Regions from separate parts of the Homo sapiens genome. Here all the other regions are linked to region 1. The links come from fine-mapping of genetic effects on gene expression. A gene starts in region 1. Each other region holds a variant in brackets. All regions are shown on one strand. Distances are between the middles of the regions.

The links.
Region 2: its variant is fine-mapped to the expression of CARM1 in whole blood (INTERVAL, PIP 0.94).
Region 3: its variant is fine-mapped to the expression of CARM1 in whole blood (INTERVAL, PIP above 0.99).

What each region holds. Positions count from the first base shown.
Region 1 is chr19:10,869,929-10,874,130 of GRCh38, forward strand. CARM1 (coactivator associated arginine methyltransferase 1) reads left to right here and starts at 1,625. Exons shown (of 16, transcript NM_199141.2): 1 at 1,625-1,994. The coding sequence starts at 1,775. RefSeq lists silencers at 885-1,674, 1,805-1,854, 1,945-2,154 and enhancers at 2,895-3,074, 3,715-3,834.
Region 2 is chr19:10,931,580-10,935,781 of GRCh38, forward strand. No RefSeq gene overlaps it. Among named protein-coding and RNA genes, the nearest start is that of TIMM29, 4.9 kb to the left of the region's middle. The variant C/T (reference allele first, on the strand shown) is at 2,316.
Region 3 is chr19:10,949,828-10,954,029 of GRCh38, forward strand. No RefSeq gene overlaps it. Among named protein-coding and RNA genes, the nearest start is that of SMARCA4, 9.1 kb to the right of the region's middle. The variant G/A (reference allele first, on the strand shown) is at 2,543.

The DNA of each region.
Region 1 (4,202 bases):
CTCCTGGGGGTGTGGGGAGTGCAGCAGTGCCATGCCAGGGTCTCTGCAACGGTACTTGCATTAGAGGGTTTAGGAGGTGGAATGACAGGGGCTACGGGTGAGGGACATGAAGGAGAATGAGGGCCCCTCGCAGTGGCTCACACCTATAATCCCAGCACTTTGGGAGGCCGAGGCAGGGGGTTGCTTGAGCCCAGGAGGTTGAGGCTGCAGTAAGCTATGATGGCACCACTGCACTCTAGCCTGGGCAACACAGTGAGACCCTGTCTCAAAAAACAAAAGGGGCCGGGCGCGGTGGCTCATGCCTGTAGGCCCAGCACTTTGGGATGCCGAGGCGGGCGGATCACCTGAAGTCAGGAGTTCAAGACCAGCCTGACCAACATGGTGAAACCTCGTCTCTACTAAAAATAAAAAATTAGCTGGGCGTGGTAGAGCATGCCTGTAGTCCCAGCTACTCGGGAGGCTGAGGCAGGAGAATCACTTGAACCCGGGAGGCGGAGGTTGCGGTGAGCTGAGATCGAGCCATTGCACTCCAGCCTGGGAGACAGAGCGAGACTCCGTCTCAAAGAAAAAAAAAAAAAAAAAAAAGGAATGAGGCGTAAATGAGGTCTAGGGAAGAGTTAAAGCTGGAGTGCTAGGAAGTGGCCCAAGCTCACTGGGTCGCCCAAAAGAGATGGGGCCACCCAAAATGAAGGGGGATGCAGAGAGAAGACGGGTTTGTGTGGCGGGAGAGGGGCCCTGCGCCGGGCCAGGCTGGACTCAGCATCGTTGGAGGAGGGGCTGAGAGAGGAGGGGGTCAAAGGATATCTTGTGCGAAAGGAGACAGTCAAACATTAAGGATTAAGAAGGCAATGTGGGCAGAGATGATGGGGAAGGGAGGAGGAGCGGTCGAATGTCGGGGAGGGGTCCTTTCAACCGGGCTCAGGTTGCTCCTGGAGGCCAGGGCTCATCGGAAATCGTCGGTGCGGGGGCGGTGGGGGGAAGGGTTGGGGGCGAGGCCCGGGCGCTGGCCACGCCCTTTCCCCCGCCCATTCCCCAGAGCGGGGCGGCTGACAAAGCGAGTCCGGGTGGGAGGGCGCGGGCAGGCACGGGGGCGGGGCCTCGTCGCGGCTGGGCCACGCCTCCCTGAGGGCTGCCTCACAAAGCCGGGCGGGCCCGGGGGGGTGGGGCCCAGTCTCAGGGGCGTGTCCAGGTCGGGGCAGGGAAGCCGCATCACGACGCGCGGCTGCTTGTGTGGGGCGGGGTACAGGGCGTGTCCACGCGGCCGAGCACCGCCCCCGCCGTCCCCGCACCGCCTCACTCGAAAGCAGCCGTTAATGAGGCGCCGGCCTGGGGGCGGGGCCCAGGCCTCCGAGGGGCGTGCCCGCGCGCCCGAGCACCGCCCCCGACGTACCCTCCCGCCCCGCAGTTCCCGGGCGGTGGAGCCACCTCACAAAGCGGCGACCGTTCTCGCGGGGCGGGGCGTAGCCGGTCCCGCCCCACGGGGTGCCCTCTCGTTCGCTCGCTAGCTCCCCGCGCCCAGGACGGCCGGCAGAGGGCGCTGCGCCACGGGGCCGGGCCGCGGCGACGGTGGCGGCGGCGGCGGCGAGGCGGCGCGTGGCCGGCAGGCGGCGCTGCCCGGCTCGGCCTCGGCCTGCACGGCGGCTGCGGCGGCGGTAGCGGCAGCGGCGGCGGCGGCGGCGGCGGCGGCGGCGGCGGCGGCGGCGGCGGCGGCAGCGGCGGCGGCCTGGGCCCGGGCGCAGCGGCGGCGGCGGCGGGGCCTGGAGCCGGATCTAAGATGGCAGCGGCGGCGGCGGCGGTGGGGCCGGGCGCGGGCGGCGCGGGGTCGGCGGTCCCGGGCGGCGCGGGGCCCTGCGCTACCGTGTCGGTGTTCCCCGGCGCCCGCCTCCTCACCATCGGCGACGCGAACGGCGAGATCCAGCGGCACGCGGAGCAGCAGGCGCTGCGCCTCGAGGTGCGCGCCGGCCCGGACTCGGCGGGCATCGCCCTCTACAGCCGTGAGTACGGGGCCCCGGGGCAGGCGCAGGGCCGGGGCTGCTCACGAGGCCGGCCCGGGGCGGGGGCCGGCGGGGAGGGGCCCTGAGCGCGGGGGCCTGGCGTGGGGTCCCCGGGACTGAGCCGGTGGCCTGCAGGGAGCGACCGTGGAGGGCCGGTGCCAGGGGACAGACAGAGAAAAGAGGGCGTGCGTGGTGGCCGGAGGGGCAAGGTGCCCAGAGTGAGCAAGGGAGCGCGAAATGGGGAGTGAAGGGCCTGAGATTTGGGAGGGGTGGGTGAGCAGGAAGTGGGGGGCTCTGAGTGGAAGGGGAATTTGGAGGACGCCAGGCGTGGTGGGCTTAAGCGTGGGGGAGGGAGGTCCGGGGTGCGGGAGAGGTGGGCGTCTCGGGGGCGGGCGTGGCCGCCTCTGCAGGGAGGAGGGTGGGGCGTGGGCGGCCCGGGATCCCTCTGGGGACCCCCTGGATAGCTCAGGACGGTTGGAAAGTGTTTGCTGGTCTGGGGCGCCCGCGAGTACCGAGTTCCACCGCTGTGCGAGGTGTGGCGTTCAGGACCCCCGAATGGGAAACTTCAGGATCTGGGGAGAGGGCCCATGCGGGGACGGTGGGAGCCGCAGGGTGAGCTCCTCGTGGAAACGTGGACGGGACGGGCCCCTTCCTGATGCCGGGCTTCGAAGTAAGAGCTAACAGCCTCCTCCCATCTTCTTTTGGGGGATGTGAGAAGCTGGTTACATTTTCCGAAGCTGCTTTCAAAACTGACATTTCACTGGGGGGAAAAGAAAATCACAAATGCGTTTGCCAGCACCCCCCACCCCCGCTCCCAGTCTTTGTAGTTCATTCTTCTTCTTGTTACTCCTTCTTATCTCTTCTCTTTGATTCCTTGTTCACATTTTGCTACTCTGTGTCATTTGGCTTTGTCTTTCAGGGCTTCTTGCACTGATGCCCTGGGGAACCCCTCAGGAGGCCTCTAGCTAGCTTGGGTCCTGTGTGAATTTTTTGCCACTTTGGAAACGGCCCGATTAAAGGAAAGCCCGAGGAGCAGTCCGTTCACACTGGGTTTTCCCTGCACCTCGACTTTGAAAACGTGGACTAAAGGAGTTGTGTCTGCTGTCCGAGGGTGCCGTCTCTTTTTGCTGGTGCAGAGCCTGGGTCTTCTTGGACCAGATGAGAGGGGAAGGAGGGTATTTCAGCGGGGGTTTCAGAGTTCAAGGCAGACACTCAGCTCAACAGAACCCCAGATCATAAGCAAAACCTATTCACTGGGCAAGCATTGGTAGCCAACTTTGTCCTGAACAGAACAAAGCGGGGCAGCGTTTCCAAAACTAGGGTCCCAGGGCTTATCCTCAAAGGAGTTCCAGGAGAGTTGGCTATCATTTTTAAGTAAACCTTTAAAAAATTTTTTTAGGACCAGGCGGGGTAGCTCAGCACTTTGGGAGGCTAAGCACTTTGGGAGGATCACTTGAGGTCAGGAGTTCGAGACCAGCCTGGCCAACATGGTGAAACCCCGTCTCTACTAAAAATACAAAACAGCGGGGTGTGGTGACATGTGCCTGTCCCAGCTACTCGGGAGGCAGAGGCAGGAGAATCACTTGAACCTGGGAGGCAGAGGTTGCAATGAGCTGAGATCGTGCCATTGCACTCCAGCCGGGGAGACAGAGTGAGACTCCATCTCAAAAAAAAAATTTTTTTTAGAACAATTTTAGTTTAGTTTTTTTTTTTTTTTTTTTTTTTTTTTTTTTTTGAGACAGAGTCTTGCTCGGTCCCCCAGGCTGAAGTGCAGTGGCTCAATCTCGGCTCACTGCAAGCTCTGCCACCTGGGTTCACGCCATTCTCCTGCCTCAGCCTCCCGAGTAGCTGGGACTACAGGCGCCTGCCGCCATGCCCGGCTAATTTTTTGTGTTTTTAGTAGAGACGGGGTTTCACCATGTTAGCCAGGATGGTCTTGATCTCCTGACCTCGTGATCCACCCGCCTTGGCCTCCCAAAGTGCTGGGATTACAGGCATGAGCCACCCCGCCCGGCCAGAACAATTTTAGTCTTATAGATGTATTGGCAACATAGTGAGATGTTCCTACCATCTTATTCCTGGAGTAACATTTTGTGTTTGTATTTGTGTTTTTGTTTTTGTTTTGTTGATACTCTTGAAAGTATTACTTGTTATTAAGACAGCACTTCTCTTTGAGAGGTAATTGGTAACTGAAACATTTTTTATTAT
Region 2 (4,202 bases), 62 kb after region 1:
CATAGTGAGACTCCAGCTCAAAAAAATAAATAAATAAGTAACATTTTTGTTTTGATTTTTTTAAGTTTTTTTTTGAGACAGAGTTTCGCTCTTGTTGCCCAGGCTGGAGTGCAGTGGCACTCGCCCCAACCACCGCCTCCTGGGTTCAAGCGTTTCTCCTGTCTCAGCCTCCCAAGTAGCTGGGATTACAGGCGCATGCCACCACGCCCGGCTAATTTTTGTATTTTTTAGTAGAGATGAGATTTCATCATGTTGGTCAGGCTGGCCTCAAACTCCTGACCTCAGGTGATCCGCCTGCCTCAGCCTCCCAAAGTGCTGGGATTGCAGACGTGAGCCACCGTGCCCGGCCCTCGTTCCCTATTAAAAATACAAAACCAGGCAATTGACAGTGTCATGACTATTGGGATGTTACAGGGAAGTTTTTTGTAAAACAACCTGTTTACCAGATGAGCATTGTAAGTTACTGGAGGTGGCTTGGAAGGATAAAGCATTTTCTGGTCTGGAAATCTATATGGAATCATAGATTCTGGTTATGTTGTACTTCAGTAACCCTGAAACAGAATTCTATGAAAAGAAGTAAGTTAGTGTACACAGCTGGTACTTAGCTAGGTTATGGTAAATTGTATTTTTGTTGTTGTTGTTGTTGTTGAGACAGAGTCTCACTCTGACACCCAGGCTGGAGTGCAGTGGCACGATTTCGGCTCACTGCAACCTCTGCCTCCCAGGTTCAAGTGATTCTCTTGCCTCAGCCTCCTGGGTAGCTGGGATTACAGGCATATGCCATGATGCCCAGCTAGTTTTTGTATTTTTAGTAGAGATGGGGTTTCACCATGTTGGCCAAGCTGGTCTCAAACTCCTGACCTCAAGTGATCCTCCCACCTCGGCCTCCCAAAGTGCTGGGATTATAGGTGTGAGCCACTGCGCCCGGCCAATATTTTTTTTTTTTTTTTTTTTTTTTTGAGACAGAGTTTCACTCTATTGCCTAGGCTGGAGTACAGTGGCATGATCTCGGCTCACTGCAGCCTCTGCCACCTGGGTTCAAGCGATTCTCCTGCCTCAGCCTCCCAAGTAGCTGGGATTACAGGCATCTGGCACTGCGTCCGGCTAATTGTTGTATTTTTAGTAGAGACGGGATTTCACTATCTTGGCCAGGCTGGTCTTGAACTCTTTGTGATCCACCTGCCTTGGCCTCCCAAAGTGCTGGGATAATAGGCGTGAGCCACCACACCCGGCCTCAATACTTTTTATTTTTTTTAAGTGTAATTTATGGCCGGCGCAGTGGCTCACACCTGTAACTACAACACTTTGGGAGGCCAAGGTGGGAGGATCGCTTGAGTCCAGGAGTTCGAGACCAGCCTAGGCGACATGGTGAAATCCTGTCTCTACAAAATACACAAAATTACAAAATACACAAAAATTAATCGGGTATGGTACACACCTGTACTACCAACTATTCAGGAGGCTGAGGTGGAAGAATTGCTTGAGCTTGGGAGGTTGAGGCTGCAGTGAGCCAAGACTGCATCACTGCACTCCAGCCTAGGTGACAGAGCAAGCCCCGTCTCAAAAAATTAATAAGGCTGGATGCGGTGGCTCACGCATGTGATCCCAGCACTTTGGGAGGCTGAGGTGGGTGGATCACAAGGTCAAGAGCTCAAGACCATCCTGGCCAACATGGTGAAACCCCGTCTAACAAAAATTAGCTGGGCGTGGTGGCGCACGCCTGTAATCCCAGCTACTTGGGAGACTGAGGCAGGAGAATCACTTGAACCCGGGAGGTGGAGGTTGCAGTGAGCCGAGATCACGCCACTGCGTTCCAGTCTGGGCAACAGAGTGAGACTCCGTCACACAAAAAAAAAAAAAGAGAAAAAATAAATAACATAAAACTGAAGTATTAAGGGAGTGATGCTACCTCAGGGGCCTGTGGCAAGTTAATAAAACCAGGTGGTAAAACAACTATCTTTGTTTGTGATACTTGTTTTTGTGTGTTTGCTACTTTCAAATTTTGGCATTTGACCCTTGCATTCATAATCAGTGGGTTGAACAGGTGTTGGTTTAAGTCAGCATCTCACTTTTACAGAGGAAAAGCTGAGGTTCAGAAAATTTATTTTTCCAAGGCTGTGGCAGGACCAAGATTCGAACTGTAACTCCCAGCTCTGTGACTTAATCCTCAAACTTGTGGACTTTGATCCTAATAATTCTTGTCAGAAATAGTTAAATACTGCTATCAGTTGCCATAAATAAAAATTGGATATAGAAATACATATATAAAGCCGGGCGTGGTGGCTCACGCCTGTAATCCCAGCACTTTGGGAGGC[C/T]GAGGCGGGCAGATCACAAGGTCAGAAGATCGAGACCATCCTGGCTAACACAGTGAAACCCCGTCTCTACTAAAAATATTTAAAAAATTAGCCGGGCGTGGTGGCAGGTGCCTGTAGTCCCAGCTACTCGGGAGGCTGAGGCAGGAGAATGGCGTGAACCCGGGAGGCGGAGCTTGCAGTGAGCGGAGATCGAGCCACTGCACTCCAGCTTGGGCGACAGAGTGAGACTTGTCTCAGAAAAAAAAAAAACAAAAAAAAAAACCAGACATATATAGGCTGGGTGCAGTGGCTCACGCCTATAATCCCAACACTTTGGGAGGCCGAGGTGGGCAGATCATCTGAGGTTGGGAGTTCGAGACCAGCCTGACCAACATGGAGAAACCCCATCTCTACTAAAAGTACGAAATTAGCCAGGCGTGGTGGCACATGCCTGTAATTCCAGCCACTGAGGAGGCTGAGGCAGGAGAATCGCTTGAACCCGGGAGGTTGTGATGAGCTGAGATCGTGCCATTGCACTCCAGCCTGGGCAACAACAGCAAAACTCCCTCTCAAAAAAAAAAAAAAAGAAAAAAGAAAAAAAGAAATACATATATAAAAAAGAAATGCAATAAAACCAAAAGACACAGCCTGGATAACATAGCAACACCTCGTCTCTACTAAAAATAAAAATAGGCCAGGTGTGGTGGCTCACATCTGTAATCCCAGCACTTTGGGAGGCCAAGACGAGTGGGTCACCTGAAGTTAGGAGTTCAAGACCAGCATGGGCAACATGGTAAAACCCCGTGTCTATTAAAAATACAAAAAATTAACCGGGCATGGTGGCAAGCACCTGTAATCCCAGCTACTCGGGAGTGAGCCGAGATCATGCCATTGCACTCCAGCCTGGGCAACAAGAGCAAAACTCCGTCCCAATAAATAAATAAATAATAATTAAAAAAAAAATAGCCAAGTGAGACGGTGTGTGCCTGTGGTCCCAGCTACTTGTGAGGCTGAGGTGAGAGGATCCCTTGAGCCCAGGAGTTTGAGGCTGCAATGAGCTTGGTCATGCCGCTGCACTCCATCCTGGGCCACAGAGTGAGACACTATCTCCCCTCTAACCCCCAAAAATGAAAGGAAACAAAAGACGTCGAGATGATACTAACTAAATGCTATCTCTACACCATTACCTGCCAAAAATCTCTGTCCCCAAATCTGCCCTCTGTTAGACATTAGCCAACTTCAGGGAAGGGTTTTAAGGTGTCATCAAAGACACTTGTTTCTCATTGATCAGAAGTATTGGAAAGGGTCCACACCATCATTGCTTGAGTCAGTTATTAAATGCCACTTTTGACTTCTCGCCAGGGTGTGTTCCAGGAAGATCATCTGAAGCTGCTGGGAGCTTGAAGCTGAGGGCAGTGGTCGGCGCTGTTGGTAGGAATTGTGGAGCTTGGGCAGCCTGAAGGCTTTGTGTCTTGGCTTTGGGCAGAGGGTCAGCTTTTCCCAGAGGTCTCACTGTACTTCAGCCCATGCTCTGGTGTAAGGCAGAGGACAGGAGGCATAAGTGGGCTTTAAAGCCAGGATTTGGAACTCAGCTTTTACACTTCCTTGCTTTGTGAGTGAAGTCACTTCTCCATGCTTTGGGCTCCTTATCTCTAAGTGTGGGCTTGTCAGAAAAATTTAAAAGCCCACTAAAGCACTTGGTACAGAGTAGGCATTCACAGTCTGTGGTGCGGCTGTGCAGGGAAGATTATGGCTCCGAATCCATGCTGTGACCTTCCTAAGTGGTTGTGGAGGGGCTGATGCACCCTGCCTAGTGGTGCAGGGCCACCATGTAGGGAGGGCCCAATGTCTGATAGGATAGAGCCAAGGCACGCTTCTTTCTCAGATCCAAGTGACAGCCGAATCTAA
Region 3 (4,202 bases), 80 kb after region 1:
GGGCAGATCACGAGGTCAGGAGATCGAGACCATCCTCGCTAATATGGTGAAACCCCGTCTCTACTAAAAAAAAAAAATACAAAAAGATTACCCGGGTGTGTGGTGGGCGCCTCTAGTCCCAGGTACTCAGGAGGCTGAGGCAGGAGAATGGCGTGAACCCGGGAGGCAGAGCTTGCAGTGAGCCAAGATCGCGCCACTGCACTCCATCCTGGGCGACAGAGTGAGACTCCATCTCAGGAAAAAAAAAAAAAAAAAGGCTGGGTACGGTGGCTCATGTCTGTAATCCTAGCACTTTGGGAGGCCAAGGCAGGAGGACCACTTGAGCCCAGGTGTTTGAGACCAGCCTGGGCAACATAGCAAGATGTATCTCTAAAAAAAAAAGTTCAAAAATTAGCTGGGTGTGCTGGCACCAACCTGTAGTGGGAGGCTGAAGTAGGAGGATCACCTGACCCCTGGGAGGTTGAGGCTTCAGTGAGCCATGATCACACCATGACATTCCAGCTTGGGCAACAGAGTGAGAACCTGTGCCAAAAAAAAAAAAAAAAAAAAAGAGAAAAAAATTGTGGTAAAATACACATTACATAAAATTTCCCTTTTCTTTGAGACAGGGTCACACTCCATTGTCCAGGCTGGAGTGCAGTGGCACAACCTTGGCTTGCTGCAACCTCTGCCACCCATGTTCAAGTGATTCTGGTGCCTCAGCTTCCCGAGTAGCTGGGACTACAGGCATGTACCACCACACCTGGCTAATTTTTGATTTTTTTTTTTTTTGGTAGTGATGGAGTATTTTTGGTAGAGACAGGTTCTTTTGGGTATTTTTGGTAGAGATGGGGTTTTACTATGTTGGCCAGCCTAGCCTCAAGTGATCTGCTCACCTCGGCCTACCAAAGTGCTGGGATTACAGGGGTGAGCCATCGTGGCCAGACCAATTTTTTATTTTTAGTTGAAAAAAGGTCTTCCTCTGTTGCCCAGGCTGGTCTTGAACTCCTGGGCTCAAGTGATCCCCCCACCCGGGCCTCCCAAAGTGCTGAGATTACAGATATGAGCCACCATGCCTAGCCTTATTTTATTTTTAACAGTAGCTCTCCTAATGGTGTGAGGTGGCTGCCACTTCTGAATTTTTTTTTTTTTTTTTGAGACAGAGTCTCGCTCTGTTGCCCAGGCTGGAGTGCAGTGGCACGATCTCAGCTCACTGCAGTTTCTGCCTCCTGGGTTCAAGCAATTCTCATGCCTCAGCCTCCCAAGTAGCTATAACCACATCTGGCTAATTTTTGAATTTCTAGTAGAGATGGGTTTTCACCATTTTGGCCAGGCTGGTCTCAAACTCCTTGCCTCAAGTCATCTGCCCCCGTAGGCTTCCTAAAGTTGTCACTTATGATTTTTTTTTTGAGACGGAGTCTCGCTCTGTCGCCAGGCTGGAGTGCAGTGGCGCGATCTTGGCTCACTGCAAGCTCAGCCTCCGCCTCTGCCTCAGCCTCCCAAATAGCTGGAACTACAGGCCCAAGCCACCACACCCAGCTAATTTTTGTATTTTTAGTAGAGATGGAGTTTCAGCATGTTGGCCAGAATAGTCTCGATCTCTTGACCTTGTGATCCATCTGCCTCGGCCTCCCAAAGTGCTGGGATTACAAGCATGAGCCACCGTGCCCAGCCTTTTCTTTTTTTTTTTTTGAGACGGAGTCTCTTTCTGTCGCCCAGGCTGGAGTGCAGTGGCACAATCTTGGCTCACTGCAAGCTCCGCCTCCCGGGTTCAGGCCATTCTCCTGCTTCAGCCTCCCCAGTAGCTGAGACTACAGGCGCCCGCCACCATGCCTGGCTAATTTTTTGTATTTTTAGTAGAGACGGGGTTTCACTGTGTTAGCCAGGATGGTCTCGATCTCCTGACCTCGTGATCCGCCCGCCTCTGCCTCCCAAAGTTCTGGCATTACAGGCGTGAACCACTGCGCCCGGCTAGCCTTTTTCTTTTTTAATTGAGATGGAGTTTAGCTCTTGTTGCCTAGGCTGGAGTGCAATGGCGCAATCTAGGCTCACTGCAACCTCTGCCTCCTGGGTTCAAGCAATTCTCCTGCCTCAGCCTCCTGAGTAGCTGGGATTACAGGCATCTGCCACCATGCCCAGCTAATTTATTTATTTTTAGTAAAGACGGGGTTTCTTCATGTTGGTCAGGCTGGTCTCAAGCTCCCGACCTCACGTGAGCCACCCGCCTTGGCTTCCCAAAGTGCTGGGATTACACACTTGAGCCACCGCGCGCCTGGCCGATTTTTTTTTTTTTTTTTTTGAGATGGAGTCCCATTTTGTCGCCCAGGCTGGAGTGCAATGGCACGACCTCGGCTCACTGCAACCTCTACTTCCCAGGTTCAAGCGATCCTCTTTCCTCAGCCTCCAGAATAGCTAGACTACAGGTGTGTGCCACCACATCTGGCTAATTTTTGTATTTTTTTTTTAGTAGAGGCGGGGTTTCACCATATTGGCCAGGCTGGTCTCACACTCCTGATCTTGTGATCTGTGTGCCTTGGCCTCCCAAAGTGCTGGGACTAGAGGC[G/A]TGAGCCACTGCACCCGGCCTACACTTACGATTTTTAAGAGGCTGTTGCTGTCTTCTGTTTTCAGAGAAGTGCATTTCAAGTTTACAAAATTGCCTAGCATGGTGGCTCATACCTTTAATCCCAGCACTTTGGGAGGCTGAGGTGAGAGGATTGCTTGAGCTCAGGAGATCAAGACCAGCCTGGGCAACATGGTGAAACTTCATCTCTACAAAAAATAAAAAAAATTAACCAGGTGTGGAGGTGCGCACCAGTAGCCCCAGCTACTCAGGAGGCTGAGGCGAGAGGATGGCTTGAGCTCTGGAGGTTGATGCTACAGTGAACCATGATTGTGCTACTGCACTCCAGCCTGGGTGTGACCAAGTGAGACCTTGCCTCAAAAAGTAACTAACTACCTACCTAATTAAATGTTTACAAAGTCACTAGAAGAATTTGTGTGCAGCCCCAGGGAAAAGTAATAGCTGGATAAGCCCAGAACAGCAAAATGCTTTTTCTGAGAGAAGCAGACCTGCTGAGGCCCAGACTCACTCTTCTCAGACTGAGAGCACATCTGCAGGTGATGTTTGGGAAACCCCGGCTTGGCTTGCCTTGGGACACTTCCAGTAGCTCCAGTTCAGGGTTGGAAAACCTGTTCTGCCACTGTCTTGTGGATGCCACTCCCAGGTTTATATATTTATTTATTTTTTGATGGACTTTCACTCAGTCACCCAGGCAGGAGCGGAGTGGCATAATCTCAGTCACTGCAACCTCCGCCTCCCAGGCTGGAGAGATTCTCCTGTCTCAGCCTCCCGAGTAAAACTGGGACCACAGGTGCCCGCCGCCAAGACTTGCTAATTTCTGTGTTTTTAGTAGAGACAGGGTTTTCCCATGTTGGCCAGGCTGGTTTCAAACTCCTGGCCTCAAGTGATCTGCCCGCCTCAGCCTCCCAAAGTGCTAGGATTACAGGAATGAGCCACCACGCCCAGCGCAATCTTAGGTGGATTTTCTCCATTTTACTTGTACTCGTGTGTGTGTGTGTGTGTGTGTGTGCGCGCGCGCGCGCGTGTGTAGTAAATTGTATACAATTTGCTTCCTATGTAGGTTTGCATATTCACGCCCACATTCAAAATACTGATCATGGCTGAGGCGAGTGGGTCACTTGAGGTCAGGAGTTTGAGATCCACCAGGCCAACATGGTAAAACTCAATCCCTACTAGAAATACAAAAATTAGCCGGGCGTGGTGGTGGGCTCCTGCAATCTCGGCTATTTGGGAGGCTGAGGCAGGAGAATTGCTTGAACCCAGGAGGTGGAGGTTGCAGTGAGCCAAGATTGCACCACTATACTCCAGCCTGGGAGACACAGCGAGACTCCATCTCAAAACAAATCAAATCAAAACAAAACAAAACAAAAAAATTTAATCAGATAGTATGTAACATTTTTGAGATTGGCTTCCCCTCCCCGGTTCCCGCCCAAAGCATAATTCCCTAGAGATTCATTCATCTCGCCTGGGTGCCGTGGTTCACGCCTGTAATCCCAGCACTTTGGGAGGCCGAGGCGGGCAGATCACGAGGTCAGGAGATTGAGACCATCCTGGCTAACACGGTGAAACCCCGTCTCTACTAAAAATACAAAAAATTAGCCAGGCGTGGTGGCAGGTGCCTGTAGTCCCAGCTACTCAGGAG